Regions from separate parts of the Homo sapiens genome. Here all the other regions are linked to region 3. The links come from fine-mapping of genetic effects on gene expression. A gene starts in region 3. Each other region holds a variant in brackets. All regions are shown on one strand. Distances are from middle to middle. Region 1 has its middle 82 kb from the start of C5orf67. Region 2 has its middle 67 kb from the start of C5orf67. Region 3 holds the start of MAP3K1 (mitogen-activated protein kinase kinase kinase 1).

The links.
Region 1: its variant is fine-mapped to the expression of MAP3K1 in whole blood (TOPMed, PIP above 0.99).
Region 2: its variant is fine-mapped to the expression of MAP3K1 in whole blood (TOPMed, PIP above 0.99).

The regions. Positions count from the first base shown.
Region 1 is chr5:56,682,707-56,693,285 of GRCh38, forward strand. No RefSeq gene overlaps it. Among named protein-coding and RNA genes, the nearest start is that of C5orf67, 82 kb to the left of the region's middle. RefSeq lists an enhancer at 3,902-4,051. The variant C/T (reference allele first, on the strand shown) is at 4,011.
Region 2 is chr5:56,667,856-56,678,434 of GRCh38, forward strand. No RefSeq gene overlaps it. Among named protein-coding and RNA genes, the nearest start is that of C5orf67, 67 kb to the left of the region's middle. RefSeq lists a silencer at 2,347-2,641 and an enhancer at 2,591-2,640. The variant T/C (reference allele first, on the strand shown) is at 5,464.
Region 3 is chr5:56,807,258-56,817,836 of GRCh38, forward strand. It overlaps MAP3K1 (mitogen-activated protein kinase kinase kinase 1), which reads left to right and starts at 8,292. Exons shown (of 20, transcript NM_005921.2): 1 at 8,292-8,798. The coding sequence starts at 8,317. RefSeq lists enhancers at 7,520-7,649, 9,101-9,924 and silencers at 8,010-8,779, 8,850-8,969, 9,150-9,389.

The DNA.
Region 1 (10,579 bases), 120 kb before region 3:
GAAACATGCAACAGTATCTTGCTAGGCTTTGCAGGGCCTTAATTTTCTCTTCCCCCGTGGGGTTCCCGTTCCTCAGTCACCCATTATAATCAAGAGAAGTTGTATAATGCAAAAATGCTCCGAATTAGTAGAATAACTTGTATTATTTTCCATTATGAAAACTCCCAATAGAGGGAAAATGGCTAAACTCCAGGCTTAAAATTCAATTTGGGATTTTCATATCAGTCACTGACTTCCTGGGACCACATCAGCGATGTTTCTGTCAGGAGTCTATGGCCATAGAGATATTAGTCTTGCCCATTCCTGAACAGCCTCTCCAGATTGTTTCCCTCCAAAATGCAGGAAAATGTCCACTGTACAATTTTTTAAAACCATAAAACCTAGTAGAAAGGACCAGAGGCATCTCCTTAAGGTATAGGCATCCTCCAGAGCAAGAATGATTCTAGGGGTAAGGCTGAAGGTGCCTGTGGCTGTACCTTCAGGGCAATTCTTCATGTCACGTGGATCATGGGGATTTGGTGTTTTAAAGGAATATTGTCAACAGGGAAAACTAGCAGGCCCCTTAAAAAGGTGAGAGTGGAAATCTAGTTTAAAAAACAAGGCATCTCGTTCATCTTCTACAGAATTTGCCAAATCCATCCTAGATGAGTGGATGAAAAGTCTTATTTCCATGCCATCAATTAAGGCCATTAATCCTTTCCAGCACTGACATATTGGTCTGGGCTTATTCAGGATTTTGACAAAAAGCTTACACAGCAGGTTTTCTGATTGAGTCATTCTAAGTAATTCTGAGGCCCTGGGAAAGTCAACCTGCTGTATCATTATAACTGCCAGAATGCTAAGTGTGCCACCTGGATGATCTAGACCATCTATGTGACATTGCCAGGAAGCTTTTATAGCACCATCTCACAGATGAGAAAACCAAGGCATAGGGAAGTTAAGCATTGCTATGATCTGAATGTTTGTGTACCCCCAAAATTCTTATACTGGAATCTAATATCCAGTGTGATGGTATTAAGCGGTGGGGCATTTTGGAAAGTGATAAGTTATGAGGCTCTGCCCTATGAATGGGATTCGTGCCCCTATAAAAGAGACTCAAGGAAGCTCCCTTGCCCCTTCTGCCATGTGAAGACACAGCAAGAAGGCACCATTTTGAAGCAGAGAGAGCAGCCTTCACCGGACACTGAATCTGCTAGTTCCTTGATCTTGGACTTTGCAGCCTCCAGAACTGTATGCAATACATTTCTGTTTACAGATTACTGAGTCTAAGGTATTTTGTTACAGCAGCTCAAATGGACTAAGAAAAGTGGCTTCTTCAAGAACATGTGCCTGATAAAGTTGATGAAATCAGGATTCAAACCTAGGCTGTCTGATACAGGCCCACAGGCTTAACCACTACACCACACTGCCTTTCTCCATGTATGCCACAAGGACTTAATATGAGTGGCTTACAAGGACTCATATTAAGTGACTTCCCAGTCAACTCTTTGTGCTCACATCACATCTCCTCAGCCCACCTCTGATTTCAGCCCTGGTTTTGGCATTGAGTTCTAGAAATCTCAGGTCATTTTCTTGCTTTCTGCCTCAGGACCTCCTGTGAAGGTGTGGGAGCCCAGGCAGGCCACTTTCAAGTCAGCTTGGAAATCCTCAAGCAATGAGGCGTGAGAACTGTGAAGAAGTGCCCCAGGCTCCAGCATAACAAAGGACAATCTGGAGACTTTCCATGCACTTCTTAGAACGCCAGGGTAACCATGCTCCCGTTGTCCACAGCATCAGCCTTGATAACATACCCTAATATTTTCCTTTCTGCCACATTCTCTCCATCCCCTCATTCCTGCTTCTTGGGTTCAACTCCTAAATAAACTACCTGCACGTGAGATCTACTGTCGGGCTTGCTTTTGGGGAACCAAACTTAGACATCCTGCCTTTGCAGCTTGATGAACCACACTGTTTCTTGGGGCTCCTTCCTAATCTGTTATTCAGATTTTTACATCCTACACAAATTTTCAGCAACCTGCCCTGAATGAAGTCCATCAGGGCATACATTCCAGAAGGAGCTACTGCCAGTACATGAGACAATTCTCTTGTGTTAAAATTTACCTAAAGGTTCCGGGCTGTGAGTTGCTGAATCTGCATTTCCACCTAGTTTTCCCAGAAGTGGCTGTTCATCCAGGAAGACTTGTTCTGCTCACTAGTCTATACGGAAGGCTTGGCATAGTTCTGTACTCAGTTATCCAGAAAGACAGTTCTGGTCCTCATATAATCGTGTGGATGTGTTTAGAGATTCTGTAAGGTGAAAAAGCAATCTGCCAGTGCATTAATTTGGAGAAACTATGTATTTCTATTTTAAAACTGGAAAATTGCTTTTTAAAATTTGTCATTTCTCCAAATATTTTATTTTTCACTATGCTAAGTGATCCAAATGCATTGTACATTCCCTATGCTGTAGGTACAATTATTGTGCCCTCTAACCACTATAGATGCACAATAAACTCAGAGTAATAAATTAACATTCAAGACAAATCATTAAATTCATGTTCACAATTCCCCCCATAAAGAAAGACTGTAAGCATCTCTTTAAAGGTATGTGACAGTAAGGTTATTTTGGCTTAAGACCAATTTTCAGTGCACAGATCAAGAATGTTACTTATTCTTTTATTTGTTTGTGTTTTAATTGTGGTGAAATATACATAGAATTAATCATGTTAGCCATTTTCACTGTTCAGTTCAATAGTGTTAAGTATATTTGCACTGTTGTACAATGAGTCTCCAGAACCTTTTCATCTTGCAAAACTAAAATTTTCTATCCATTAAACAACTCCTTGTTTCTCCCTTCCCCAGCCCTTGGCAGCCACCTTCTACCTTCTATTTTTATGACTTCACATACTCTAGATATCTCATAGAAGTGAAGTCATACAGTATTTGTCCTTCTGTGACTGGCTTGTTTCACTTAGCATAATGTCCTTGAAGTTCATCCATGTAGTAACTTCCTTTTTAAGGCTGAATAGTATTCTACTCATGCAAATACCACATTTTGTCTATTCATTCATCCATCCGTATACACTTTGTGTGGCTTCTACTTCTTGACTATTGTGAATAGCTCTGCTATGAACATGGGTGCACCAGCAAGTTGCTGTTAATGAAAATGATTCATTCTGTAGTGTTCCTTCCAGCTCACAGTCTTACATTCCTGTTATCAAGAAAAGCTAACTTAAAGTCCTTCTTACTCAGTTATCCACATTTGGAATTAGCTTAACCTGTTGGCCTAACAGTCATGACCCAGTGTAACCACTCATGTCTCAGCACAGATGACAAAACGCAACTTGGCTAGGAGGAAATAGGCTCAGTGGAGGGCTGGCCTTGGAGAACTCATCTTAACAAAGTGGAGACAAAGTTATTTTGGGAGGTCATGTAAGCAGAGTGATTATCATCATGGGGTCTGGGATCAAAATCCCAGCTCCAGCCTTCACTAGCTGTGTGACCTTGAGAAAGTTACTTAACCTCCCTAAACCTCAGTTCCTAATCTCTAAACAGAGGCAGTGATCATAATAGTATGGACATCTAGGAACATGGTGAGGAGTAAATAAAATAATCCATGTTAAGAATTTAGTGTCTGGCATACAGTAAGCGCCCAACAACTGTTAGCCCATATTCTGTAGTTACAGGTCACTGTTCCAAACCCCTCAATTTACAGAGGAGGCTCAGCAAGTTGAAGGAACATTTACTCCTGCCTTCACACGTAGCCATATGCATATGCAGACACAAAGCCACAGAGCTCCGTGTGTGCAAAGACCCCCTGTTTGATTTTAAAACCCTTGTGATCAGGGCTTTACTATCTAGCTATGAAAGTTTGGTTTATCTCAAAACTTTGATTTAAAAAACACGTCAATTAACCTAAGTTTGACCCTGAGAGCCCACAGGCTTAAAAACAAAAGCTAAAAAACAGGAACTGAAAAAGTTAAAAAAAAAAAAAATGTGAGCAAAACTAAGTAAACAGCATGCACACTTTT[C/T]TACTTTTCTGCTAAGAAAATCCTTAACTTTGTATTTCTTGAATCCTGTTTAAAATATATTTGGCTTTCTTTTGCATCAAATGTGGACCATCATAACCATCATCCAAAGACCACTGCACTTTAAATAATGATCCACGCTTTTACTTGGCCTTTCACAGGCTGGAACCAATTACCAAATTTCTCTCCCCACCCCCCCACCCCCACCCACCAGCACATTTCTGCCTTTGCAGCTCTGATTACTAGAGTTGAACACATTTGAGCAGTTCATTAGACAACAGTCCAAAGCTTCAGGGCAACTTGGGGGCCACATTCACATAGAATTCAGAGTTTGCAGCCTGCCAGCCAAGCACGCTCCCTCATGCATGCTGCTGCTGAGCAACTCCCAGTCCCATAGAACAGCCTCCCAGCTACAGTGTCCTCTCTAAATCTCTGGCTCATGGTACCTTTCAAGTACATGGTGAGCTTCCTCTAGCATTCTGGGACACTTTAAGGAATCTACCTGGCTCTTTTTCATTTTTAAATTTTTAAAAAATTATTATGTATTATTATTATTGTTATTTTTTAAGCCAGGGTCTCACTCTGTCATCCAGGCTGGGGTGCAGTGACAGGATCACAGCTCATTGCAGCCTCAAACTTCTGGGTTCAAGCAATCCTCCTGCCTTAGCCTCCCAAAGTATTGGGATTATAGGCATGAGCCACTGAGCCTAGCCTTCTTTTTTTTGATCAGATTTACATTCCTCAATATTCAAGGTTCACAATGCAAAGCAACATTAACGATTTATTTTCTTCTCAGGTTTTGTGTGTGTGTGTGCACACGCATGTGTGTGTAATTTTATTTTATTTTCTAGCTGGAAAGAGGCTGTTTCTCTTGGGGCTAGTCAATTCTTAGAGATGGCAAAGGGCTCAGCCTTTCATATGAAAATGAGCCAATCCAGCCTTTCATAAGAAAACTACCCAGTCTTGCCTGTGCACCCAAGGAGGCAATATTCCTCTGCCTTAATTAACCCAGGGCCAGGTATCAGGCAACTAGGGGCCACCCCTCTATCTTAGAGGCTGCCCCAAATAATTCAAACTAGCCAATCCTAAACTGTCTACCCTGCCCTGCCTTTCTCATGAAAACCCCATTTATTGGGGGCACTGGCCAAATCTTCCCCCAGTTCCTATCTTCTGCTTCCTACCACCCTGGTGTTTTTCCATGTGCCCCTGCATGGCACGACCATGCCTCCTGTCACGAGGACCTGTGAGCATAAACTTTGTTTTGCTGAGCTTCTCCTCTGTCTCCTTTTGTGGCCACAGCTAACTAAGCATCTCATAAAAAAGTGCAAAATATCAGGTCACCCTGCCTTGCTCCTGTTCCTGCCCAAGAACCACCCAGCACATGAGGGGTTAGCAACACAGGCTGGGCATTAAAATCACCTGATTTTTGCACTTTTCTATGCACATTTCTATAAAACTATGGATGTCTAGATATCACTCCAGGCCATCTGAAGCTGCACTTCTGAGGATGCCTCGCAGGGCTCAGCTGTTCCTAGGAACTACTCAGGTGATTGTGATGAATGGCGAGGGCTAAGAACCTCTGCCCAACCAAAACAGGATGTCAGTGTACAGCCCCAGGCCCCACACTCCAAGGGCAGGCCATGTGCAAGATGAATTGCTGCAGAATCCTTCAAGGCATACCAAAAATTCCCATAAGGAGTGACCCCAATTCACCGTTAAAGGGGAAAATGTCCTTCCTCAGCTCATCTAGAAATAAAATCTACAGGACTCATTTCTACTTGGGGTCACTGAAGGCCTGATCCTACACTCCAGCCAACATCACACCCTGAGTGCACATCTTATCTGGCTGAACACTGCTTCCAGCCTGTCCTCATGAGTACACCCACATAACTCCAGTTCACTGCAGATTAAGTCAGAGAGAACCTTGCTATGGTTGGAGCTCTGCAGGAGAGCTCAGGGACTACCAGCAGAGTTCTCTCTAAGCAGCAGGACCAGTCCATGTCAGATGACCATGACCCAGGGAGCAGGCAGACCCCTGAGCATCATCAGCAAAAGATGAGGGAGGCAGACAATGTAGAAGGTATTCAATGGCTGGACTAAAAGCAGCACATACAGGAGGATCATCCCAGTGTAATCAGGGCTGCAAAGAATTAGGGCAGAGATTGAATGTTGAAGCCGGTGCAGGGGGGAAAGACACTGACCAGAGCACTGGGCTCTGGGGGTAAAATGCCTGGATTAAACCCTGGCTCTGACCCATAATTTGTGGCAAGCAAGAAAACAAAAACTCTGTAAGCCTCAGTTTTCTTATCTATCAACTGGGAATAATTGCTTTACTCATAGGGTTATTATGAGGAACAGATGAGATAGTGAGGTTGAGTGCCAGCACAGTAGCCAGTACTCAATCAAATATAACTGTAAAACAAAGGGGCAGTTCCTAAGGCCCAAAATGGAGTTTTAGTCAAAAGGAAATAAGGCAAAAGGCCAGTTACAAGATGGAGCAGGCCCTGCAGTGGAGTTGAAAACCCAGGTCACCATGATGACTGTGGACTATAACTTTGGGTTCCAGTTTCTTTGCAAAAACAAGATTGTCCCCCAAGTCCTAGACAAATTGGGCAGCCGTGGCCTTAGCTACAAAGGTTAGAAAGAGCCAAGCAACCATTACCCTGACTGTCTTGGCACAGGTTCAAAGCTGATGATCACTCACCGGGACTTTGAAAGGCCACTTTCCTTTCAATCCACAGGTCCTTCCCAGTATGGTCCTTCAAGAATTATTTCTTTTTTTGTTTTTTCAACTAACCCCTGGTATTTTCCATGTCCAGTGCCACGCTTCTATCCTCATTCTGGGCAGGGGCCTCCCTCCTGTCTAGCTCTCCAGCCATTTAAGTTTCTCCATCCGGCACTGCCCCGGTTTTGCTCTGTTTCCCCATCAGCCTTCATTCTAGACCCTTCACACAGGCAGCTCCCCAGCCCACAGAGTCCAAAAGCAGGCTTTCTTCTCTACCCTTTCTCCCCACTCTCACCCAGTCCCATCCTCTGCCCTACCCACCCATCCCCGACAAGCTAGGATTTCATTATCCTCCAACTGAACCATATAAAGCCTCCATTTAGGAATTCTCATACATATTTTCATGTTAGCAACACCCACCATCTTCCCTGGAAAGTTCCCATTAGCTTTCCCTTAAGCACTCAAAATACAGTGAGACTTCACATTAACATTTTAACACAGAAACCTCTGTCCTGGCTTTTCGGTTCACTGTCATTCAGGGGGAGGGAAGCATTTTACCATACTCTGAGAATCAATTCCTGAGGTGGAAAAATGGGGACATTTTTCTAAACATGTTTGTTTCTGATCTTCCTTGCTGTCCTCCCCCAGCCTCCCATGAAGCTGATATCCCCATCGGATTGGACCTGCACTCTTGGTGAAATGTTGCTGCTGCTGCTGCTGCTGCTGCTCATGAGAGCAGAGAGATTTTTGTGATCTGTTTCTGGCACAGACCAATAGATCTGTTGTTTTCCATGGCCAAAGCTTGAACTTCTAATCTTGTCCAGCCATTTCATAAACTTGGTTATGAGACCTGTCCTACAGGGGACCAAGCAAGAGAACCATTCGAGAGCATCAGTGTGGCTAAAGATCAGCAGGCCCAAGTGGTAGAAGGTGGCCAAGAGGGTACTGACCCATCAGGCAGCATGTCCTACCTACTACCTGTGCTACAGAATCTTGTCTTCTGCTTATTCTCTGCACTCACACAAAGGAACTCAGTGAAAAAAGCAAATAATGATATGTGATCAGTTGCATTCCTGGGTTAGCCAGTATAGGAAGAACATTGCCTTTTTATAGAGATACCAATTCATAGACCATTTTTAAAGCTGAAAGAGAACACAGGGATAACCTCTCCAACTGCCTTTTTTTTTTTTTTTAACAGATGAAGAAATTGAGGTTTTAAGAGATAAATGGACCGACCAAGGATCACAAGAGCTGAACAGGAACTGATCTCCCTCTTTCTGTACTTTTTCCGTTGCACTACACTATTTACAAATATTATTTACAAAATGCATTTTTAAAATATAAGCGTATGATCAGAGACAGAAAGAGGATGTATTGGTAGAATTTTTTCCTTGAAAATTATTTGTAATGCCATAATGTTTTTACAGGCAATATGCATAGCTGAATTGTTCCTGGAGAGTGATAAAGTACTCAGGATCAAAGAAGTTATTTGGTTGCCAGGAAGAAAAAAGGAAGAAAGTAAAGTTGGATAGAGAAAACCAAGATGGGAGGTTTAAATATGTATTGGGGTGAATATCAGATCAAGGAGGGAAGAATAGGGATGAAAAAGGAAACACATAGAAGAAGGATATTAAAGATCAGGAGAGACAAAAACACTTCCAAGAAACCTAAAAAAGTAGTTTCAATGGTAAAGTGTGAGAATCCTTAATGTTAGCAATTTAAAAACCTGTGAGTCCTAGAAAAGGACAATGGGGGAATGATCTCTACTAAGCAGGTGATTTACCTATTTTCTCACTCCATCCTCACAAAACCCCATTAGAGGTTATTATTATACCTATTTTACAGGCAAGAAACTATGTCTCAGAGAAGTTAGCTTGCCTAGGTTCACAAAATGAAAATGTAGTAAAGCCAAGATTCTAATTCAAGATTGTCACCAAAATCCATCCACCAATCTAGAAGTCATGGCTTTCTTTACATCAGTAGATAGTAACACAAGTAATAGTGCAGAGATTAAATCTTTTCTTAGAGTAACGTTTAAAAAGTAACATTAGCATGTCATATTTGTGCCTCTAACATCACAGCCTGGAAATGCTATGTTCTACTAACCTTTACTTTGGGTCAGAAGAAGTTACTGCCAGGCATTACAGGAACTTGGACTTGGGTTTTGGAACAATCAAAGAGTAACTGATGTGGGAAGTCCTTTAATTCTTCCAGTGATAAAAAGATGATTGTACCAAGGGCTCATGTCCCCATTTCCAAGTGAGACAATGTGAGTCCTCACCTGGCAACTATAGTTTATTTTTTCTACCTCATTTTAATTCAGAGTAGGCTTCAGAAGTCCTAGTAAGTATTCAGTTTCATTTCCTTCATTCTTATGTATTTTTTAAAGTTTGGTCATATTTTCAGTATAACTTAGCTCCAAAAATTCTAATAGCACCTCTATTTAAGAATATATCACAAGGTATCCATATGTTGGGGAAATGATAATTGACTAAAAGTTCAAATTCTCTTGATAATTTTCTGTTCCAAGGAAATTGAGTGTGTGTGTGAGTGTGTGTGTAAATACATATATATGGAATATATAGATACTCATTTAGGAGGTACATTTTGCTTTCTCTTAAGATTACAACATAGCTGGAAATTAATTTAATTTTCTTCATCTCTTGTGTGGTTTCTTCTTTTGTTCTACATATTACTTCTTAATCTCCCTACCCGCAAAGGGGTTATAATAGCAAAGTAACTGAACTGATGCCATTTTTGAAGTCCTAACATGACAAAAGAATTTTAACAGTTATCAGAAGTTGATTTGATAGATTTTAATAGATTTAGTTGATTTCAATGGATTATGATTTCAAACGACAGCAAAAAGGGAGTGAGGAGATTGGAAAGGACGAGAACATCAAATTAACAGAATGGAGTTTCCTCAACTGAGATAACTTTTGTTAAAACTTTTTTTAACCCAAAGCTGAATTTACTTTCTATTCATTTCCACACTGAATTATAAACAACACGTTTTGAGGTGTTGTATTTAGATGTTTTTAATTTGGCCAGTCTAATACACAACCTAAAAAGTTTCCATTAGGGTGCGACAACGCCTAAAAACAAAACCAAACAAAACCTTTTCCTGTTCTGCTTAAGGTGGGTGGATCAAAGAATGTTTAGGCAGATAAGAGGGTTTCAGAGGTCGTACAGTCCCAGTTACCCAGAAGATTATAAAGAAGGATTTTTAAAATCATGGCTGTCAAGGGTTTCTTGTCCAAAAAAGCAAGAGAATTCTCCAAACAATTGTTGGTTAATGTCCAACGCAGTTTGCTACATTTCACATCTTCTCTGTCTTCAAAGGCTACAAATTTGAAACTTTACTGGGTAGGAAGGTTTTGAAACTCAAGTTCCATTTATTCTTGGCCAAGCCCAGCCGTCTGGTTCCCAAGATGGGCATGCGAGAGGGTCAAACTGTTGAAATAGTTATTTCCCCATCACCCGAGCTCCCCAGAGGATGAGTTAAAAACAACTTTTAAACAAGTATAGATCTAAAACACAACGAAAAAGGTATTTTGGGTTGTAACAGCCAAGGTCCAAGGTGTCCTGGCTCTGCAGATTGAGCCCCACCTGTCTTTGTGAGTAACTTCTTATTTCCTCCCCAGAGTGGTGGAAAGACATGTTCATTGCCATTTGGAAGCAAGACATAAAAGAAATCACAAAGGGTAAATTAGGACTGCTGCACCACACCGGAACTTAAAGGTTGATTTAATGTTTTTTTGGCTTTGGGGAGTTTTTTTGTTTGTTTTTTTTTGTTGTTGTTGTTGTTTTGTTTGTTTGCTTTTATTATGGTACTCTCTCATAAATA
Region 2 (10,579 bases), 140 kb before region 3:
ATTATGCTAATTAATATTATTGTGATATTTTATATTTTAATATAAAATATTCAATTATATTAATATTAAAATATTCTAATATTTTAATGCTATGCTTTTAAAAATCAAATTACAAGTTGTATAAAATTTTAATAGAACCAGGGCCAAGATTAGGGGGAGGAAAGTGAGGAAAGGGTATATACACATGCAGGATCAGATCCTCTCTTTATTTTAAATTTTCATCCTTTGTTCATCAGGGATTTTGTTTTCATTAATTTTGATTTTTAAAAGACTACTTTATAGTGCAGTTTATCTTAACCACGAAGTTTTTTGACATCCCCCTCGACCCCTTTTTTTTTTTTTGTATCCCAGGCAAGTGCCTCACTCAATATCACCTTAGTTATGGCCCTGCCAGTTGAGGGGGCTCAGGGAAAAAGACTTATCTTTCTACATTAAACATGTCAGTTTAGAAGCTCTTCCAAACCAAAAGGTAAGTTCTTTTCCCAAGCAGAATTTTGTCTTCAAACTCCTGCCAATTTTGAGAAGAATTTTTTTCTTGTGACCCCTCCCTCATTAGGCTATGAGATCCTTCAGAATAGAAAATGATGCTGTATCCGCTTCCATAGCCCCAGCACCCAGACTTGGTAGATGAATTATAAATATTTACTGCATACAAGGATCCAGTGCAGAGCTTTGTAAATTCCATTTGTTATTTGTTGAATATATTCACAGGTTTTCTTTTTATGTTAAAATCAAACATCTTAGAAAACCAGCTGGCAAGTACCTGAAGACATCATTTAATCTAATCTTTTCATTTTGTACATTGGGAAGCTGAGGCCAACCTCCATGGTTATACTTGCAGGCAAGTTGCTTAGAGTTTATCCAAAAAAATGATATTTCTGATTGTCAGGGTACTAAATAATTTTGGTAGCATCCCAGTAAGCAGAACAGAGTAAAATTCTCCCAGGGGTTCATGAAGCCCCTGCAATAACACAATGCTACTAATTAATTAATTAATACAATGCTGTTATTTCTGCCAACAGAAATCTCAGAATATGAAAAACACACAAGAGAGGCTAAATGGGAAAATTACTGACACCCAAGCCAATGACCTGAGTCAGAACAACTTTTATCAGAATGAAGCGCAGAAATATTAATATCAAGAAGCTGAACTTTTAAATCAAAGCCAGAAAATGTATTTGCCCAAGGTAAAGGCATGAGCAGAAGGTTTACAGAGAGAAGGACAATGATGATAAGGAAAGCTTGCTTCTTTACAATGAATGCATTGTGACAAACTCGTGAGGCACCAAGCAAGCTGACAAGGGTCCCTTCTTCCTTGCACCTAGGACAGTTTGGCTAAAGGACATCTAGGGTGACACGCCTCAGACAGTCCGCATTAATTTCACATCCTGGAATAGCCCGAAGAACCTGTCCAACCTGACTGTCAGCCTTTTCAAAATCACTTTTGGAATTCTTTGTTCAATCCTGCTTGGTTTACACTGGAACGTCTCTTCTGGGACTTCTCTGGTGACTTGATCTTTGTCCACAATGACATAGCCCAGGAGACCCACCAATACCCAGATTTGCCCAGTGGGTGACACTAATATTAGATCCAATTAGAAGTGTCAATTCAAAACAGATGAAGGACACATTTACACACAAGTCAGGGCTGCCACAAATTCATTTCTTCCTCACAATATCCTCTAGCAGAAAAAAGGGCAAACTGACCTTGAAGAAACCTCCTTTTTTTTATCGGTTACCATGGCAGCATGAACCGTCTCTCCCCAGGGCACCTGCCCATGGGTTTGCACCTGCCAGCTGGTAGCAAGAGTGCACCAGCAGCCTTGGTTCCCAGTGGCTGTGCTCACATCATCAACAAAGGTACCAGCAGTGCCAATTGGCTTCACGATATGGATACCTGCCCGCTAAGCATTGGCCTGGAGCTCGGGGACTTTCACAAAGGCCAGCCAACAGCTGGCAGGCAGGAACCTCCAGGTCATTGTCATCCTGGGCTGAATTGGAACATGCACTTGGGAGACAAAGGCTCTGTCTGTAACCACAGCATCCCTTCCTCCCTGGGTGTTTTATTTTCAGCTCTGGGTCCCCTGCTATGGGAAGGCCATGTGGCTGAAGGTGTCTTTCTTGTTTTTTTTTCCCCCCCCTCCTTTAGCATTGTCCTGCCTTGTGCATGGTGCAGAAAAGCTTTCTCTGTCCCATGTCTAGTTTTATTGCAAATCAGAGAGCTCACCATAAGTCATCCTGGGCCAGTGGGTTCAGAGGTGGAGCTGGTAACCAGAGGCCATGTCAAACTTCCTCCTCTGGCTCCATACCAAGGCCTCGGAGGATTTTTTGTCACATGAGGTTACTGTAGTTTCACATCCTCTAAAGCAAAGCTCTGTCGAAACTCTCTATTCTCACATGGCTTCAGCTCAAACAACCACCCTACTCAGCTGCCTTCCTAACCCTTTCAAGCCGTGAATCAGGAGACCTGGGTTCCAGTTTCAGCTCAGTCTGCGTGCCCCAGAGCAATGACGGGGCCTCAACTTCTTTATCATGAAAATTAAGAGGCCAAAGTACCTTTCACTCAGGTTCCTTTCAACTCTCTCTCCCCTATCTTAAAAAAAAAAAAAAAACAACAGCTTATTTTTCCTGTTGCTTTTAGAAGAAACTCTTAACCTGAGACTCTCTAAAAATGAATAGAGATTATTGTGGTTTAAAAAATAAATGGCTACACACAGCAACCTGACTGTATCTCAAAAATATTATGGTAAATGAAAGAAGCTTCACATACAAAAGAGCTCATACTGTATGGTATTATTAACATGGAATTCAAAAATAGGCAAAACTAATCTACAGTTTTAAAAATTAGAATAGTGGTTGCCTCTGGCTGTGAGGTAGGAGCAGGGATTACCTGGGAAGGGGCAAGAAAGAATTTTCTGAGATGAAGGTTATATTTTATATCCGGTTAGGACTGGGTCACACAAGTAAGCCTTCATCAAAACTCACAGACTGCTACTCTTGAGAGGATCAATAGAGGTAATAAAGCAATTATAGCAAAATATTAATTGCAGGATCCAAGTTGTGAGTAAATGGGTATACCCTGTTTAATTCCTTCAACTTTCCTGTAATTTGGGAATCTTCATACTAAAATGTTAGAAAAAAACACGTTCTAATACATTTCAAAATTCCTGTCTCACTCATTCTCTCCTTTCTTCCATCCCCTCCCTCTTTCTTGACATGTGACCTTCTTTTCCCATTAAATGAGTCAATGGAAATGGGAATATTTATTGATTTGAGCAGTTAAGTCACCAGTGCTCTGTGATGACTAACTACTTTATCATTCATTGCCCATGGCTTTCAAGGGAAGAGGACAAGCTCTGTGCATCTTTCTCAAAGAAAGCGTTCCTACCTGTAAAAGTCTGTTAGAAAGGACTGCAGATTTAATAAGCATCTTTCAAGAGCTCTGTCCCCATTCCAACTCACCCCAACCCTCCAGCCCCAACACATTTGTTAAAAATTCACATTCAGAGATGCAGGACCCTCAACCTTGGACTTCCCAGACTCCAGAACTGTAGGACATAAACCTCTTGTCTTTACTTTAAAAAATAATAATAACATTCAGTCCCTTTTTTGAAGGTTTTTATCAGGATATCTCAAACTTAACACTGAAAGGAGGTAGCAAAATTTCTGTTTCCTCCATGTCTTTGTACTTGTAGAAATGGAGGCACAAAGGTAAGACACAGGTGTGACCAGGCCCTTCGAGTGGTTCAGCTGACTGAATATACACCTAGAGACCCTAAAACAAGCCACAGGGGTGAGAAATCAGAGAATTAGGAATGCGCAATTTAAAAGCACTGCGGTTTCCAATGTGAATTGACTGGAACTGAGGTTAAAGAAGAATTTCAGCATTTTTTGGTCACCAGTTTCTCAATGGACCATTTCCTGTCCTCTCACTGTCAAGTTTAGAGAATAAAACAAACCTCAAGGATGTATCTCTGCTCCACACCCTGTCTCAAGGCAAAGTTAGTGGTCACCAACAGCAAGATAGCACACACTGCATCTACAAATGTATGTGACATATCTTCACATTTTGTGTGTGTGTGTGTGTGTGTGTGACCACAACTTCAAAGAAACGAACAAAAGAAGCAACCAATAATCATAATGAAGAGGTTAAATTTTACCAGAGCCAATTGGGCAGAGAAAAAAAATCCAAAAACACAATGAAAACAAAGAATATTAGACCTGTTAAAAAATAATAATAAAAACCTTAGAGTTCATTTTAGTCAAACTTTTCATTTTGCAGAAAAAGAAACTGGATCTCAAATTTCCAATTTAATGAAAGTTATGTCTGAGAATATAAATCTGAGACCTGATCTCACCACCAGAAAATAGGGTTGGAATTGACCTTATAAATAATATATCTAAGCCCCTCAGTTCACTGGTGAGGAAACTGAGGTTCAAAGAAATTTCAGGGACTACTTCGAGTCCACACTGTTACTTAGTAGGACTAACTCCCATGTGTTTATGCTTCTGAGGAAGACAGCTTCGGTACCTTCCTTCCCTGTCCAAATCCTATCGGCAGCCTTTATCACTCTTTCGTTCTTTGAAATGAGCAGTTGATGTTTTTCTCATGTTCTTATACAAATAACCACCTTAATTCAGCTTAGAGACCCACATCTCCTTTCCAACCAGATTAGTATCCCTTACAGAAATTCAGGCACTGAGTCTCCCTCTGTCGCTCAGGCTGGAGTGCACAACCTCAGCTTACTGCAACCTCTGCCTCCTGGGTTCCAGTGATTCTCCTGCCTCAGCCTCCTGAGTAGCTGGGATTACAGGCATGCACCACTACGCCCAGCTAATTTTTGTATTTTTAGTAAAGACAGGGTTTCACCATGTTGGCCAGGCTGGTCTAGAACTCCTTACCTCAAGTGATCTGCCTGCCTCAGCCTCCCAAAGAGCTGGGATTACAGGCATGAGCCACTGCATCTGGCTACATCCAGGCAATTTTAAATACCTGTCTGTGTTTTATAACCACTCCAAGCTGGTCAGCCTCAAGGAAATCAACTAGGAGAGTTCAGAGTTTTTCCATGTTAAATTCTGACTCTATTTACCAAAGCAAACAAATTAAGGTACTGAAAGACTTTAGTAAACACAAATATTTTTACTTGTGGTTACAGAGGCTTTGCAAGAGCTCTTGTTCTTAGCAGTGATTATGTTGAGCCATTCATTTCATTCACGTAATAGTCTGACAAAATGTGAATGCCTACCATGTGTCCAGTACTTTCTAGGTGATGGAGACGCAGCAGGGAACAAAGTTTCTGCACTCTTGGATCTCATATCTACTGCAAGAAACAGACAAGCAATAAACAAGTATAGCCATAATATGTCAGATATTGATATGTGCCATGGGGAAAAAGAAAGTGAGAAAGTAGGTGAGTGGGTACCAGACTGCAGCAGTAAGGAAGGGTGGTTGCTAATGTCATA[T/C]ATAAGATGGACTCACTGATAAACAGACTTGAAAGAAATGAGGAAGCAAGCGTTGTGTACATCTGGAGGAAGCCGTTTCCAAGCAGAGGGGGAACAAAAGTAAAGGCCTGAAGTAGGAGTGGCATATTCTTGGAACAGCGAGAAGGCCAGGGTGACCAGAGCAGAGTGAGCGAGGAGACAGTGGAAGGAGATGTTGTCTTGAGGCCCAGTTGTGTGGGGCTTTGTAGGACATTGCCGGGGCTTCAGCTTTTTCTCAAAGTGAGGTGGAAAGGCATTAAAAACTGTGGAACCCAGGAGTGACATGATCTGATTTCCATTTAAAAGAATCAATTTGCCTGTGTATTGAGAAACAACTGTAGCTATCTATTATTGGCTACTACAAGACTCCAGGGATAATGGTGGCTTGGACCAGTGGTGGTAGCAGTGGAGGTGGTGAGAAGTAGTAAGATTCTTGGAGGTAGAGCTGACAGGATTTATTGATGGATTGGAAGTATGAGGAAAAGAGAACCAAGAATGACTTTCAAGGTTTTAGGTTGGAGCAATGATATGGTTTGGATCCCACCCACATCTCTCGTTGAATTGTAATCCCCAGTGTTGGAAGTAGGGCTGGGTGTGAGGTGATTGGATCATGGGAGCAGAGTTCTCATGAATGGTTTAGTACCATCCCCCCTTTGGTACTGTATAGTGGTAGAGTTATCATGACATCTGGTTGTTTAAAAGTGTGGAGCACCGGCCGGGCGCGGTGGCTTACGCTTGTAATCCCAGCACTTTGGGAGGCCGAGGCGGGCAGATCACCTGAAGCTGGGAATTCGAGACTAGCCTGACCAACATGGAGAAACCCCATCTCTACTAAAAATACAAAATTAGCCAGGCATGGTGATGGGTGCCTGTAATCTCACCTACTTGGGAGGCTGAAGTAGGAGAATTGCTTGAACCTGGGAGGCGGAGGTTGAGGTGAGTCGAGATGGCGCCATTGCACTCCAGCCTGGGCAACAAGAGCGAAACTGTCTCAAAAAAAAAAAAGTGTGTAGCACTTCCCACCCTCTCTCCTTCTTGCTCTGGTTCCAGCCATGGAAGATGTGCCGGCTTCCCCTTGCCTTCCACCATGATAGGACGTTTCCTGAGGCCTCCCCAGAAGCAGCAGTCACTATGCTTTCTGTATAGCCTGCAGAACCATAAGCCAATTAAACCTCTTTTCTTCATAAATTAACCAGTCTCAGGTATTTCTTTATAGCAGTCTGAGAACAGAGTAATATGGAGCAACTCTTGGGCAGAATTGCCTTTTGCTAGAATGAGGAAGGCTGGAATAGATTCGGGTTGCCAGAGGGGTGAGGAGTGCTCGTGGGTTATGAATCAGGACTTCAACACTAAACATGCTGGGCCGGAGATGCCTGTTAGATATCCAATTAACAGAACTGATTGATACAAGTAATGAAACATTTTATTAGAGATATATCTCAAGAATGCAGTTAGAAACACAATGGAGATTTGTCTCTAGCCTAGAGACATAAATGTTTGTGTCATTAGCATATGGATAATTGGCTTATGGTTCTGCAGGCTATACAGACCCCTGAGACCAGATGAGATCACCTAGTGAGGGTGGATAAAAAAAGACAAGGAAGGACCAAGTACACAATTATTTGCAGGTCATTGAGATGAGGAGAAAGCAGCAAAGAAGGCAGAGGAAGGTACCAGAGAGGCAGACAAAGATTAGAGAGCAGTATTCCCGAGTCAGGTAGGTGGTCAGCTATGCCTAATTCTGCTGATTCTAGAGGCAAGCTGAATTATAAGGGGAAAAGCAAAAAATAGCCACCGGCATCTCCTGCTGTCATATCTACAGTCTCCTGTTACAACAATAATAGCAAGAATAGTAGGAATAGGCCGGGCGCGGTGGCTCACGCCTGTAATCTTAGCGCTTTGGGAGGCCAAGGTGGGCGGATCACTTGAGGTCAGGAGTTCGAGACAAGCCTGGCCAACATGGTGAAAGCCTGTCTCTACTAAAAATATGAAAACAAATTTAGCCAAGCATGGTGGCGGGCACCTGTAATCCCAGATACTTGGGAGGCTAAGGCAGGAGAATTGCTTGAACCTGGGAGGCAGAGGTTGCAGTGAGCTGAGATCGTGCCACTGCACTCCAGCCTGGGCAACAAGGGCAAAACTTCACCTCAAAAAAAAGGAATAGTAAGAATAAAGAACTATCATCTATTGAATGTCTATCATGCCCCAAGGATTGTGCTTCAGTAAATATCACATGTCAACAGTGATGGGTTGGTAGTGGCTACCTGGAGCATTGTGCTGAGAGGGATTCTGAGGCTGCCTCTTTGCTCAAAGGAAAAGGATTGAGCTGTGATATTTGCTATGTATACAATAAGGAATTGGCTTCACAATTGCCAGGTGTTTGTGGACATTGTACTAAGATTTTACGTATATCATCTGAGGAGCTCACAACGCCAGAGTAGTGATATAATTAGCCCCATTTTACTAATGCAGAGACCCAGGTCAGAGAGGTGTACTAACCTCTGCCCAGTGACACAGCTAGATGTGCCAAAGGGGAGGCTTGGCCCAGGTCAGCTGACCTTTGTCCCACACTGCACAGTTTCTCTCTCCTTCTTTCTCCACCCAATCAGAAAAGCACATGGAATTTCAGATCCCCAGGGTGCCCCTTTTCTAATTTAAACTTATGACACAGAAGGCATATAATCAACAGGATCAACATCAAATGCGCTGATTCCTTTAGGCTCAAAGAAAACGTGGTAAGCTAGATTCATGAACTTATTTAGGGACACATGTTTGCAAGCTCAAATACAGGAGAAAAAGAAACAAAACATGAAGTAAGAGTAATAAAACCATTCAAATAGCAAGTTTTTTCAGCCTAGAGCAGTTGAAGATGACACAGTAAGAGCAACCATTAAAATATGACTATTATTTTGTCTTCATCATTCCCATAGCAACCTAGTATTATTCCCTGCCAAAAACTAACTCAGTAGGCACCAAGAGTTCACAGCTCCTCGTTTAGCACCAAGTCCTTCCCACAGTCATTTGTATTAACATTTGCAAAAGATTTATTTCCCTTTGATTCAAATAATTCCACATTCCCAAGAATACCTAGACTGGAGAGTGGCCAACTGCCTGCAGGGCCTGCAGTCATCTCCCCGGTCCAGGGTAGTTCCCTGGGCGCCTGTGAATGGCTCATTGTTCAAGACAAACCCACTGCAGAGAACAGAGAAGACACAGAAGAGGAATTAGTGTCATGTTCTAGAGACTGATCTGGACTTTGAGCAAAGAAACTGCATGCCCATGGCCATCCCCTAAGGCTACTATGAGTCACAGCTATCAGTGCCTCCCAGCCCAGGGCTCCCCTGAGATACAGCTCAGTTCATAATCAATAATCAACACACATCTGGAGGTTTCTAACCCACGTTCTTCCATATAACTAAGCAGAGGGCTAGTAAAGCAGGGCCCAAAATGAAAATCTTCATCATCCTCAAGTATTTGTTAAGTACCAACTGTGCAGGATTAAACACGCTATTCAGGGAAAAGTCTGCAGGCACCTTCAAATAGTCTTCATGGCTTTAGCAACTGACCAGAAATCTAAGAAAGGTGTGATGTTTAGACTCTTATATGATGGAGGCTGGAAACCTAAATCCTGCTCTGAGTTTTGCTACTGAGTTTCTGAATCTATTCTGTATATTCAAACTAATAGAGTACTTCAGAGAAAGGTCTAACTACCCACTTCAAAGTCCATTGAAATCAAAGATAAAAGACTGTAATTTTAGAATTTCTTGGGATTAATCAACCTGTCACCAAATTCAATTGCAGAGTGCAAAAAATGTTTCCTGGTGTAGACTTTCTACATTTAGACCTTATTTGTTATTTCAGCAATATATTAATGAACCACACAATTAATGCTTGATAAGTATAATTTAGTAGCCACAAGCTTATTTTTCAGAATATGGCTATTTTCAAAAAGTTACACTTCTTCGTACTTATTCAGGTCTTTTATTGTCCTTATTTGAGCCTTTTAATAGTCAGAAAACTACATTTCAAGATAAATTTCCATGCCACATTACTTCTCCCAGCTCTCAGAAACCCATCAAAATACATTAGAGAAAATCAATATGGTAATCCAGAAACAATAGCTTAATTCAGTTATGGTCCTGACTTACCCATCTGCAAAAAACAATAGCTATATCTGCCCAAGTGAATATATATCCGACTTTACGCCATGGAGAAAAATAAATCTAACTTGCCAAGACATGCCTCTACCCTTCAACTTCCCTACTTACTATCTACAAGTAAGGCAAAAAGGCTATATGGAGTCTGAACTTCTAACCAATGTACACATCTCAGTCTTCATTGAGGCCATTAATACATTAAAAACATGGATGAAGGGCTATTTGTTGCGTAAAGTCATTTTTCCCTTGACATTTATTATCAGTAGAAAAGTTTTTCTGTTTTAATACCCACATTCTGGCATATAATTACTGTAATAAAGTCTACTTCTGCACTCTGGGTGACTGCTGCCAGTATTATGAAATCATGGCAATGGTTGTAAAAATAAGGGAGGTCACAACCCTTCCACACACACACACACCCACTCTGCAGCTGATATTAAATAGCTCTGGTGGGAAAATGCAGACCTTTAAACTTTCTCTACCAAACTCAATGCATTCTGTATTTAACTTCTTTAAAACAATTTGTGTTATAAGAATTCAAAAACTGCATATGGCCATGGAAAAAAAAAGAAGGAGCTTGTACTTAATTAGCTACTAAGTCCAACTTGGACGAAGCACAATAACAACCATTTCTTTGTGCTAACTATTTTTAATGATATGCATTACATGCATTGGCCTGTCTACTGCCCAGACTGTTCCAGCATCAATCTTGCTTTAGTCTTATGCTTTTGGCAAAGAACAGCATTGGGAAAAGTCTTCATTGTGATGTTTTGCCATTTTGGGAGGGATAACTCCTAAAGCATGAATTCCCTCTGAACTTTAAACTACCAACATGGCTTCATGACCACAAGACAATCAATGTCCAAGCACATCAGAAGCTGTACAAATATTCTCCTTGCACCTCAAACAGTACTCAATATTTTGATTCATCCTCTCTGGGC
Region 3 (10,579 bases):
GGTTATTGTGTTGATTAAATAAGTTAATATACATGAGGCACTTATCACTGTAATGGCACATAGTAATGTTTAATATGTTTATATTTAATGATAATTTTAAACACCTTTTGTTCTCCAGAAACTTCCCAGGATCCTCTTCCCCAAACCTTTCAGGTTTGTTTTGTGTTGCAGGTGGTACACACACCTAGAGACATTTTGCTTTCCTTTTATGGGCTTCTATCCTAATATTCAATGCCTTTCAATTGTATGACCCCCAGCTCCACCCTGACCACAGTCTACTCCTCAAGGGTCCACCTCTTCCCTCACTCTACCAACAATCCCTTCCCCTCACAGAGGCCCCTGAAGTGCACTTTTAAGACCTGAGTTTACTACCCCTCATTTTCCTTAAACTTTCCTGAGTCTTCGTTGCAAAACTTTCTGCTTCTTTTCTGCCATTCTATTTTTCTGCCTTTTAGATTCCCAGTTTCCCTGATCCCCTATTCCCGCCAATTGCCCCCAGTAAGAGACTCAGAATATAAATAGAGATAAATTCTTATCTTTTTCTAAAATGAATGCACAATTGAATTCGCAGATGAGGTAGTTTTATTTCAAGGAAGGGGAACTCCCTGTTAGGGAGGGAGTGTTGTGATTAAAGGTCAAATCCTAAGAACTCTTAGACAGTTGGTGTTTCGTAACCATCTAAATCAACTCCTGTTCACTGAGCATCTACTGCATGCAAGGCACCGAGGTAGGGACCCTGTGGAGGTGAGATGATGAAAACGAAATGGTCTCTGCTCCAGGGTCTCATAGGAATTGGAAAATGTGCACACAGACACAAGTGGCTCCAATGCAAGGCAGGCTTTGTAAATATCCAGAGGAAAAGGGCATTGTCTTGTTTTCTCTGCTCCCAGCACCTCTTATGCCTCCCAGAAAAGGGCCTGCCCCTTAGCAGGTGCTTAGCAGTACCTCCCTCGGACCTGGGCAGGAGACTACCCCTGGCCCTGTGTTTTAGAGTACATGATGTGTCACAAATTTGGAAATAGAAATAGACTCAAGAACACACAGCTGCCCTGATCACTGGGATCTAGTGCACAGTGGTGGCTGGGCAAACATCTGCTCTGGCGATCAACACTAGTGAGCCCCAGGGAAGCGCAGCTTCACATGCCTTGCCCCAGGGCCTTCAAATGTCAAAAAGTTTTGTGGATGTTGATGCTGCCACTGATGTTGGAAACAACACCACTTTGAACACAGGGAGGACCTCACAGGTAGAAGTGTTCAGTAAGAGAAGAGAGAAATCCGCTAACTTGTCAAATATATGGGCACAATATATGGGCAATATTAACAACATTTGCACACGAACACTAAGGAATATTTTGCAGTATTAAGCATTATGTGTGACTTAGATTTGTATTTATATAGATTTGACAAAACATTTAAAGTATGTTGTCCATACATTAGCAACTATGTGGCTCTTGAATGCTAGAAGTTCAAATAGTTTTATTTTAATAAAATATTTGATAATCAAATTTTCAAAAGTTTTAGAAGTTCAGCTTTATTTAAATCATTTTTATTTAAAATTTTGATGTTTGTCAAATTTGTATTTTGAATTGATTTTTACCTTTTAATAATGATAGATCATTGGATTGTTTCAAGTGACTGAACACAAATTATGTGAAATATCTTAATATAACAACATAATTAGTAATTTTGTTGAAATTAAAGCTAGAAAATTAATTTCATAAAAAAATTGCAAATTACGTGTCTTTATTCCTCATCCAAACATTGTCAGCCCATTAATGGGCTGCAATTAAATACAACTGTCTTTGATATTTTGTCATATCAGTCATATGAAAGCCATAACTTTACATACAATATTCAATTTTGTCTTTATAAAAGTATACTTATCAAAGTGGGAACCTAGAACATATTTTACTTACTGTTGGCTTACATTTTAACTTTTAAATAATTAAAAATGTTGTAAGGGGCCTCTATCTGTATTCTCACCCCAACCCTGAAAACGTTAGGAAAGGGATTGGCCCAGGGGTAGTGTAGTGAGGGTTTTAGGAGTGAAGTGGATTTAAGGAAGTGTTTTCAGGAGAAGAGGAAAGAGAGCACGATATATTCCTAACTAGGGGCAACTGGTATTTGTGGCTGGAGCCCAGGCCTCAGGACAGGATGTACTATGGTGAGAACTGAACTGTCAATGGTGGAAAGTAAGGGAGATGATAGACTGAGAGTTCCATGAGGGTAAAAGGTCATATCTACTTTGATCTCTAGGGTATGTACAGTGTCTAGCACATAGGAGGTAATGCACTTGATATTTGTTGAATGAATCAAAGAATGTAGATTCCATACTCTATGCAATGTGGAACCATTAAAGGGTTTGAGGAGAGAGGACAGAATCAGAAATGTAGTTGAGAAAGGTAACTCCAACAATAGTGGCTAAAATGTATTTGAAAAGGTAGCTAGGAGAGGTGGAAAGACTAATTTTCTTAGTTATATGTTACTACAGTCATGCACCACTTAATGACTGGAATACATTTGATACATTCCAAGAAATGCATCATTAGGTGATTTTGTCATTGTGTGAACATCATAGAGTGTATGTACACAAATCTGGATAGTATAGCCTACTACACACATAAGCTATATGGTATAGCTTACTGCTCCTAGGCTACAAACCTATATAGCATGTGACTGTGCTGAATACTGTAGGCAGTGTAACACAATGGTAAGTATTTGGGTATCCAAATATATCTAAACATAGAAAATGTACAGTAAAAACATGGCATTATAATCTTCTGGGACCACCATCATATATGTGGTCCCTCATTATGCAGCACATGACTATAATTTATATCCATTGCATTTCTTATTTCCTGAACATACACATGTGGATTATTTTTCTTATATATTAATCCTGACCTAATCAAGCATTTAACAATCCATAAAACTCATTGGTGTTAGGTACTATAGTTCTAGGTCTGCACTGTCCAATACGTCAGCTACCTGTGACCTTTGAGCACTCAAAATGTGGCTAGTCTGAATTAAGATATTAGAAATGGTCAGTGTAAAACACACACCAGATTTCAAAGCGCCAGAAAAGAGAAACTATCTCATTCGTAATACGTTATACATTGATTGATTACTCGTGGAAATAATTTTTTGGATACGTTATGTAAAATAAAATGCATTATTGAAATTAATTTCACCTGGTTTTAAATGTATCTACTAGAAAATTTAATATTATATATGTGGCTTGCACTATATTTTGTTAGACAGCACTCTTCTAGTGCATGATAATTTTTGAAAATTTTTATTTATTTATTTATTTTTAGAGACAGGGTGTTGCTCTGTGGCCCAGGCTGGAGTGCAGTGGTGTGATTATGCACCTTGCAGTCTGGAACTCCGGGGCATAATCCACCGTCCCATCTCAGCTTCCTGAGTACCTGAGACTACAGGTGTGTGCCACCATGCCCAGCTAATTTTTTTTTTAATTTTTGTAGAGATGAGGGTCTCACTATGTCACCCAGGCTGGCCTCAAACTCCAGGCCTCAAGTAACCCTACTGTCTCGGCTTTCCAAAGTGCTGGGATTACAGGCGTGAGCCACTGTGCCCAACCCCATGCCAACTTTGTATACCTCTTTATAGCAGCTTTGGCCATAAAACAATGGAAATCAATTGCAAAGTGAAGGTGCAAATGTTGCAAAAGATGCAGAAGTGAACAGAGCCAATGAAAGTGGTCCTGAACTGCTCAGGTCACATGCAAAGCCTTGTGAATGCAGGATTCAGCAGAGTTGGACCAGGAAGTTGGTAAAAGGAAGAAAAAACTGACAAGGACACTAGTCTAAAAAAAGCAATTGAGTATTACAGGAGGATCTTGGGAAAATGTATGAACCCTTCAAATATTGTTTGCAAAAATGATAGCCCTCACTAAGCCACAAAGGTCAAATGGAAAAAGAGTATCTCAGCATGCATCAAAAAACAGCAACTACGATGGCCATTCAAAGAATTCAGAGAATCAGTGCAAGATTGTAAAGTGAGAAGAATTTTGCTTACTCTGAGGCAAATTAAATTTAATAAGTTGTAGTTGTGTTCTTAAATATAAAATCCCAAGTACTTTTCATTATTTATTACAAAAATTAATTTCTGATTTTAAGAACATGCAAATACATGCAAAATGTTTAGAAGGTTTATTAATAAGAGGGAATCATACGTATCTCTTAAGTATTTTACTTTAGCTTAAAACATATAAACAACAGTGTTTTGTTTTGGTTGGTTTGGGGTTTTTTTGGTCAATATTTGGCTGTAAGTCTTTAGTCTTTAAAATGTGGGTTCACCGTTTAGAGTTCCATGTATCTTTCACATCATCTACAATTTTCAGTTTTAGTTTTTTTAAAGTGACTACTGATAGATACCTGCAAAGTAAATTCTTCCCAATCTTTCATAATGGTCATACCCACAACTAATTTGACAGATTTTTTCAGTGCCTCGCCTCAAATACTTCCTATTAACATATGGTAAAGGAAGAACACCCTTTCAATTAAGCATGTCCTCTGATCATTTTTCTCTTAAAAAATCAGTGTGTCCATATGCAAATGCATAATGACAACCTGAATATTCACATAAGTGATTAAAATAAAAATGACTAGAAGCATCAAAAACTATTGGAAAGACTGGCACTTAGGTTTCCCCGTGGTGGTATGCGGTGGCTGGGAAGAAGTTAGAGAATTGTTAACTAGTTGATAAGTGTTGCACTGGGTACTGCCTCACTTTGATCCCCAGTTTCAATCACTTTTCTCTCAAAGCATTTCACTTCATTTTCACTGGAACAACTTTCTTTTCGCACACACATACTCATGTTTTTAAATTTAATAATCAATTGTGTAATATTTAATTAAATTTCACAAGGAACATTGTAATAGGTGGAATCAAGTTTGGGAACAAGCACAATGGATTCTCATGGGACCCATAACTCACCTAGTGGGAACAGAAGTATGCAGGTGCACACCAGCCGCTGGCCTGAGCATTTATTGTGCTGTATCATCCCTCTGCATGTTGTACACCACACAGTAATGGCTGGTATCTGTTACTGGATGAGTCAGCTAAATGGAGGCTGGTTAAGAGACCTTCTACTATAATGTCATTTACAGTGCCCTTGTAGGGAACCAATTATCCCACTGATGACAGGATTTTCTGACTTAGAACATCTGAAAACACCTGGGAAGTATGTTGTCTGGAAAGAACATGCAGAAACCAAATTCTAGCCCCAGCACTCCTGCAAGTATTCCATAATAAATATTTGTAAGCTTGAAAGAACACCAGCTTTTACCCTATTCTCAAGGTTATATTATTCTTTTATGTTTATCTGAGGTATAGATCTCACAAACAGCCATGAATATGTGAATACATTCACATACTGATGGATCTGGAATTCTACCAGTCAGCCTGATAAATACCCACTAATAAAAATATCTGTAGATTGGAATATTTTGTTTATTCATTTTTGTAGAAATGAAAAACAACAAACAATATCCTCAGAGAAGAAAAATTCCTGCATATGCACAGTAGGTGCTTACTAAATATATGATGAATGATGTACAGGCTGAAATATTTCTCCCAATGTATATTATGTCTGCTCATTCTAATATTTGTGATATTTATGTACAGTGAGGAAATGCCCAGTGTCAAAGTGGATCCTCAACGTGAATATGCTGCAGGAACTGAAGTGTGATGTAGGCAGTTTCCAGAAGCACTATGTGGAGGCAGTGATCTGTAATGCACTGGTATTAAGGTTATTGAAATGGTCATGAAATTGCCATGAAATTGCATGCGTGAAATCATTGCAAGGTTTACGTCCCAGTGAGGATGGAAATGAAGAGCTTGGAAACAGGAATTGGAGCTTTCAGTCTAGAAACAACCTTGGAAGAAATACAAGTCTCCTGAATGTTATTAAATAAATCATATTAAGAGAATTCAGAGCCTACAGTACTTGATATTTGACATCCACCTCTCTGCAGTAACATAGCAGGACTGAAGAGCACCAAAACCAGCTAGAGTCTTAATCACGCATTAGACTCAGAAACTTCTATTAACATATGGCAGAGGGAGAACACCCTTTTCAGTTAAGCATGTCCTTTGATTCTCTCTTTAAGAAATCAGTGTGTCCATATGCAGATGCATAATGACAACCTGAATATTTACGTAAACAAAGAAAAAAATGACTCAAAGCAACAAAAACTGTGGGAAAATACCAACACTTAGGTTTCTCCATGGTAATACGTGGTGGATGGAGGAAGTGAGAGAATTGTAGCTAGTTCATAGTGCTGCGCTGGGTAGCCCTCTCCCTTTGATCCCCAGTTTCAACCACTGTACAAACAGTCAAAAATCAGTTTTGCTGGAATCTCCTTTTTACTCTGCTACTCTGGCTAAAGTCTTCCACTTACTTTTCTCACTTACAGGTACCTGAATATGTGCGTGCAAATGTAAAAGTCTTTAGATCAAAATAGGAACAAGGAAAGTTTATCCGTTTCAGTTTAGGATTTGGTGGGTGTGGCAACCCAGGAAGACCTGAGAAATAACCACTGTTTGGTTTGAATGATACATTTGACTGCCATTAAAATAGCATATAATTATAGCCTAAATGTAGACTTAATTTTTAACAGATTTATCTGAACTTTCAAAATTTGTACCGTTGGGTGTAACGATCTAAAACTATCTTATGGGAGATGTTACAGCAGTTTTCAAATCATTGAGCTAATATGAAATCTGGACTTTTTAAAACCCCTCTGATCTAACCTGGTTACGCAGTTAACATTGTATCTGGGAAAGGGGCTTTCATTTTACCTAGTCTCCAGAAGTCAATGGAATTATTCTGTAAATAGTTCAGGCTTTTGTCTAAATATGTGAAGACTGACAAGACTATCTCCGTGAGAATCCGCACCCCCCCACCCCAACCTCCCCCCTCCTTAATCATGTTTCACAAAGTAAATCTATAGACGTTCCTCCTGGGTTTTGGGAGATTCCCCATCCTAAACAAACCAGCTGGAGGAAAGGAAAGGAAGGAAGAAATAAACGCAACACAGAAGTTCTCCTCAGTTGACAAAAGGTCAAAAATCATTAACGTGTAAATGTTGCTTTTTCCATCCCAAAGCACCTTCTCACGTAGAGTCCAGGGACTAGGAGGACTCACAACGCAGCGATGGGCAGCCAGGCCCTGCAGGAGTGGGGACAGAGGGAACCCGGCCGGTGGCCCGACCCTGCAGGGAAGAAGGACGTGCGGCGAGAAGCATCGGATTCGGGGAGGGCCGGGACCTGGCCGAGGGTGACATTACCGAGCACTTCCTGGCACAGCGCTGGTCCCCTCCCCAAACGCGCTATATGTGGTTCTGTACGGGACTGCCTTTCCCAAAGACAGCCAAGGAAAAACTAAAGATCGACGGGGACACCCGCCTCCCTTCCTCGCCCCAACGGTTTCTCAGAGGCTGTGGGGACTTGGTGAGGGTAGGGGGTAGTTGTCCCAAATCAGCAGCTTCAGGATGTAAGGTATTACAGAAAACTTTGAAGTTTTGTTATCTGTAGCACAGGGACAGGGGTGGGACAATAGAGAAGGAATGTTTTCTTTTCAAAAGAAAACACAAACAAAACTTTATTTTTCTGGTCCGCGGCAGCCTGTCTGCTGAACGTTGACTTGCTTTCGCTTTGCAGCAGGCGACGGTCCCGGGCGCCACCTGCGCGTCGGTGGGAGGCTGGTCCACGCCCGGGTCCCCCGACGCCCACTGCAAAGGGCAGTGGGAATGACAGACTGTAAACCCTCTCGCCTGCGTCCCCTTCAAGCACCAGAAACCCAAGTTGGAACTAATTCTTTCTTTCGGAAGGTGCAACTCCCCTCCCGCGAGCTCCGCGGTGCCGGGCCGAGATTGCCGAGAGGAAGCGGCGCAGCGCTGCCGCCAAGGCTCCTCCTGTCGCCGGTGCGGCCGGGACTACCTGGCGGCGCGGCGCGTGCAGCGCGCAGAGTCCCGGGAGCCCACGCCTCCGCCTCCGCCCCCGCCCCCTCCGCCTCCCAGTCCACCTCGCCCGCCCGCCCTCTCGCCCGGCGGAGAGCACAGCCCACTCCCTCCCACCTGCGGCCGCCGGGCCGCCCTCCACCCACACCTCTGCCGCAGGCCGGACCCAGTGCGCCCGCCCGTCGGTCAGTCCAGGCCAGGCGCCCGGCGGGCCGCGCTCACGCAGTTGGCGCAGGAGGCCTTACGCTGGCGGCGCAGTGCCCGCCCCCTGCGCTCTCCCCGCCCCCTCCCTCCCTCGCAGGGGCCGAGCGAATGTAGCCCGCGAGAGAAAATGGCGGCGGCGGCGGGGAATCGCGCCTCGTCGTCGGGATTCCCGGGCGCCAGGGCTACGAGCCCTGAGGCAGGCGGCGGCGGAGGAGCCCTCAAGGCGAGCAGCGCGCCCGCGGCTGCCGCGGGACTGCTGCGGGAGGCGGGCAGCGGGGGCCGCGAGCGGGCGGACTGGCGGCGGCGGCAGCTGCGCAAAGTGCGGAGTGTGGAGCTGGACCAGCTGCCTGAGCAGCCGCTCTTCCTTGCCGCCTCACCGCCGGCCTCCTCGACTTCCCCGTCGCCGGAGCCCGCGGACGCAGCGGGGAGTGGGACCGGCTTCCAGCCTGTGGCGGTGCCGCCGCCCCACGGAGCCGCGAGCCGCGGCGGCGCCCACCTTACCGAGTCGGTGGCGGCGCCGGACAGCGGCGCCTCGAGTCCCGCAGCGGCCGAGCCCGGGGAGAAGCGGGCGCCCGCCGCCGAGCCGTCTCCTGCAGCGGCCCCCGCCGGGTGAGCAGCACGGCCGGGGTCGCGGCGGGGACTTGGAGAGCGGGCAGAGGGCAATGAATGAACCCCGGGCACCATGCACGGCGTCCCGGGGTTCAGCGCAGCGAGGCTACGCGCCGCTCGCCGGGACCTACGCCCCTGAGCACCCCCCGACCCCTTCGGAGTCGGGCGGCGCCCCGGACCCAGCCTGGGGGACCGGACGGGGACGTGCGGAAGAGTTTGTTATTGTTTGCAGACATGTGACAGGCGTGCGAGCCTCTCTGCGGGGAACCGTTGCGAAAAGGTGTAGGGGGCCACGGCTGGCTTTGTGGGACTCCTGGAATCGGGGCTCTCCGAGGAGCCCGGGGGCGGGGCACGGCCCTGCGGCGGCGCCCCCGGACGGGTGTCCCCGGGGCAAAGGCACTGGGGGGCGAGGCCCGAGCCTGAGGCGGGCGGTGGTCGGAAGAGGGGCGGGGTGGGTGAGAAGCCCGAGGTCGGGTGGGAGACTGAGAGGACCGAAGAGAAAGTAGCAGGTCCCAGCGGCCGTGACAGGCAGAGCCCCTCGGCCCGCCCGGGACTCGAGTCCCTAGGCAGATACCGCGGGCTGGGCCCGGACGCAGGCGGCGCGCCCCCAGCGCCGGCCGCAGGGCTCCAGGAGGACGGCTCGGTAACGCCTGTCAAAGCCGTGCGGCGGGAGGCTGCACACTCGCGGAGGCTTGCAGTCTTTTAGGAAGTGCGGTTTGTCTAATTGCAGCCCCCAAGGGGCTTTGAGTGTTCCTGGGAATGCGAACTGCACTGCTAAGTCACTTGAGTGACTTCTGTTTGGAGTTTGAATTTGGCCTTTGAAGTTTGCATTTGGCGGAGTGGTGTAAGAGCCAGGACCGGATGTGTCAGCCATTCAGTTTCAAAGCAGTGGTGACTGCTCCCCGCAGCCCCTCCGGCTTGGCCCGGGGACTGCGGCGCGGGTGCAGTGCTTCCTGCTCGGTGCCCTGGCGCGGGCCGCCCGCTGAATTCCAGGGGCCGCAGTGCGGTGGGCTTCGGCTCAGATGCGTCTTCTGGTGCATATGAAGTACAGTATGTGTAAGGTAATTTAGACCAGCGGTTTATTGGCCTCGCCCATTTTTGGCTACTGGAAATTTTTATGTTAAAGGAAATTCTTTTAAGTGTGACAGCTACATCCTTGTTTGTTTGTTTTTTAAAAACCTGATTAACGTATGCAAAGTACAAAGTCTTGATGGGTATTTTGAGTTGCTGGAAATGTTTTTGTGATAGTCCCTCGTGGCCCTGTAGAATTCCCTGACCTTTATTATGAGAAGAAAGCGTGTCATTTTGTGAGACGAATTTGACAGTAGGAGTCCTTGGTTTGGATTCATTATCTAAAGTGATCTGGCATTTTTTGTGCATTTGATTATTTGCTTAAAATCACGATCCATTTAGTATTTGGAAGTCCCCTTCCTCTCCCCAAGAACTAAAAAATATGCTTCGCACTGTACCATGGCACTACTGAGACCAAAGGAGATTTGTGACTGATACAGTTTTGTGTGCACTTGTACATGTAATTTATTCTTACAAGAGTTATGTACCTCTATAGTTTTCCCATTTCTGTGCAGATTGTATTAAAACTTAACTGGAATAATTCTTTGAAGGCAACTTCTACTTTAAATGAATTCCAGATAAAAATTTTTAACCCCAAATTTAAGAAATTGTATCTATTGAGACCTAACTTTTTGGATACAATAAATAATTTAGCAAACGTCAGCATTCTAGTACTCTTAATGAGCTGTGAATATAGTAGAAGAGCATCC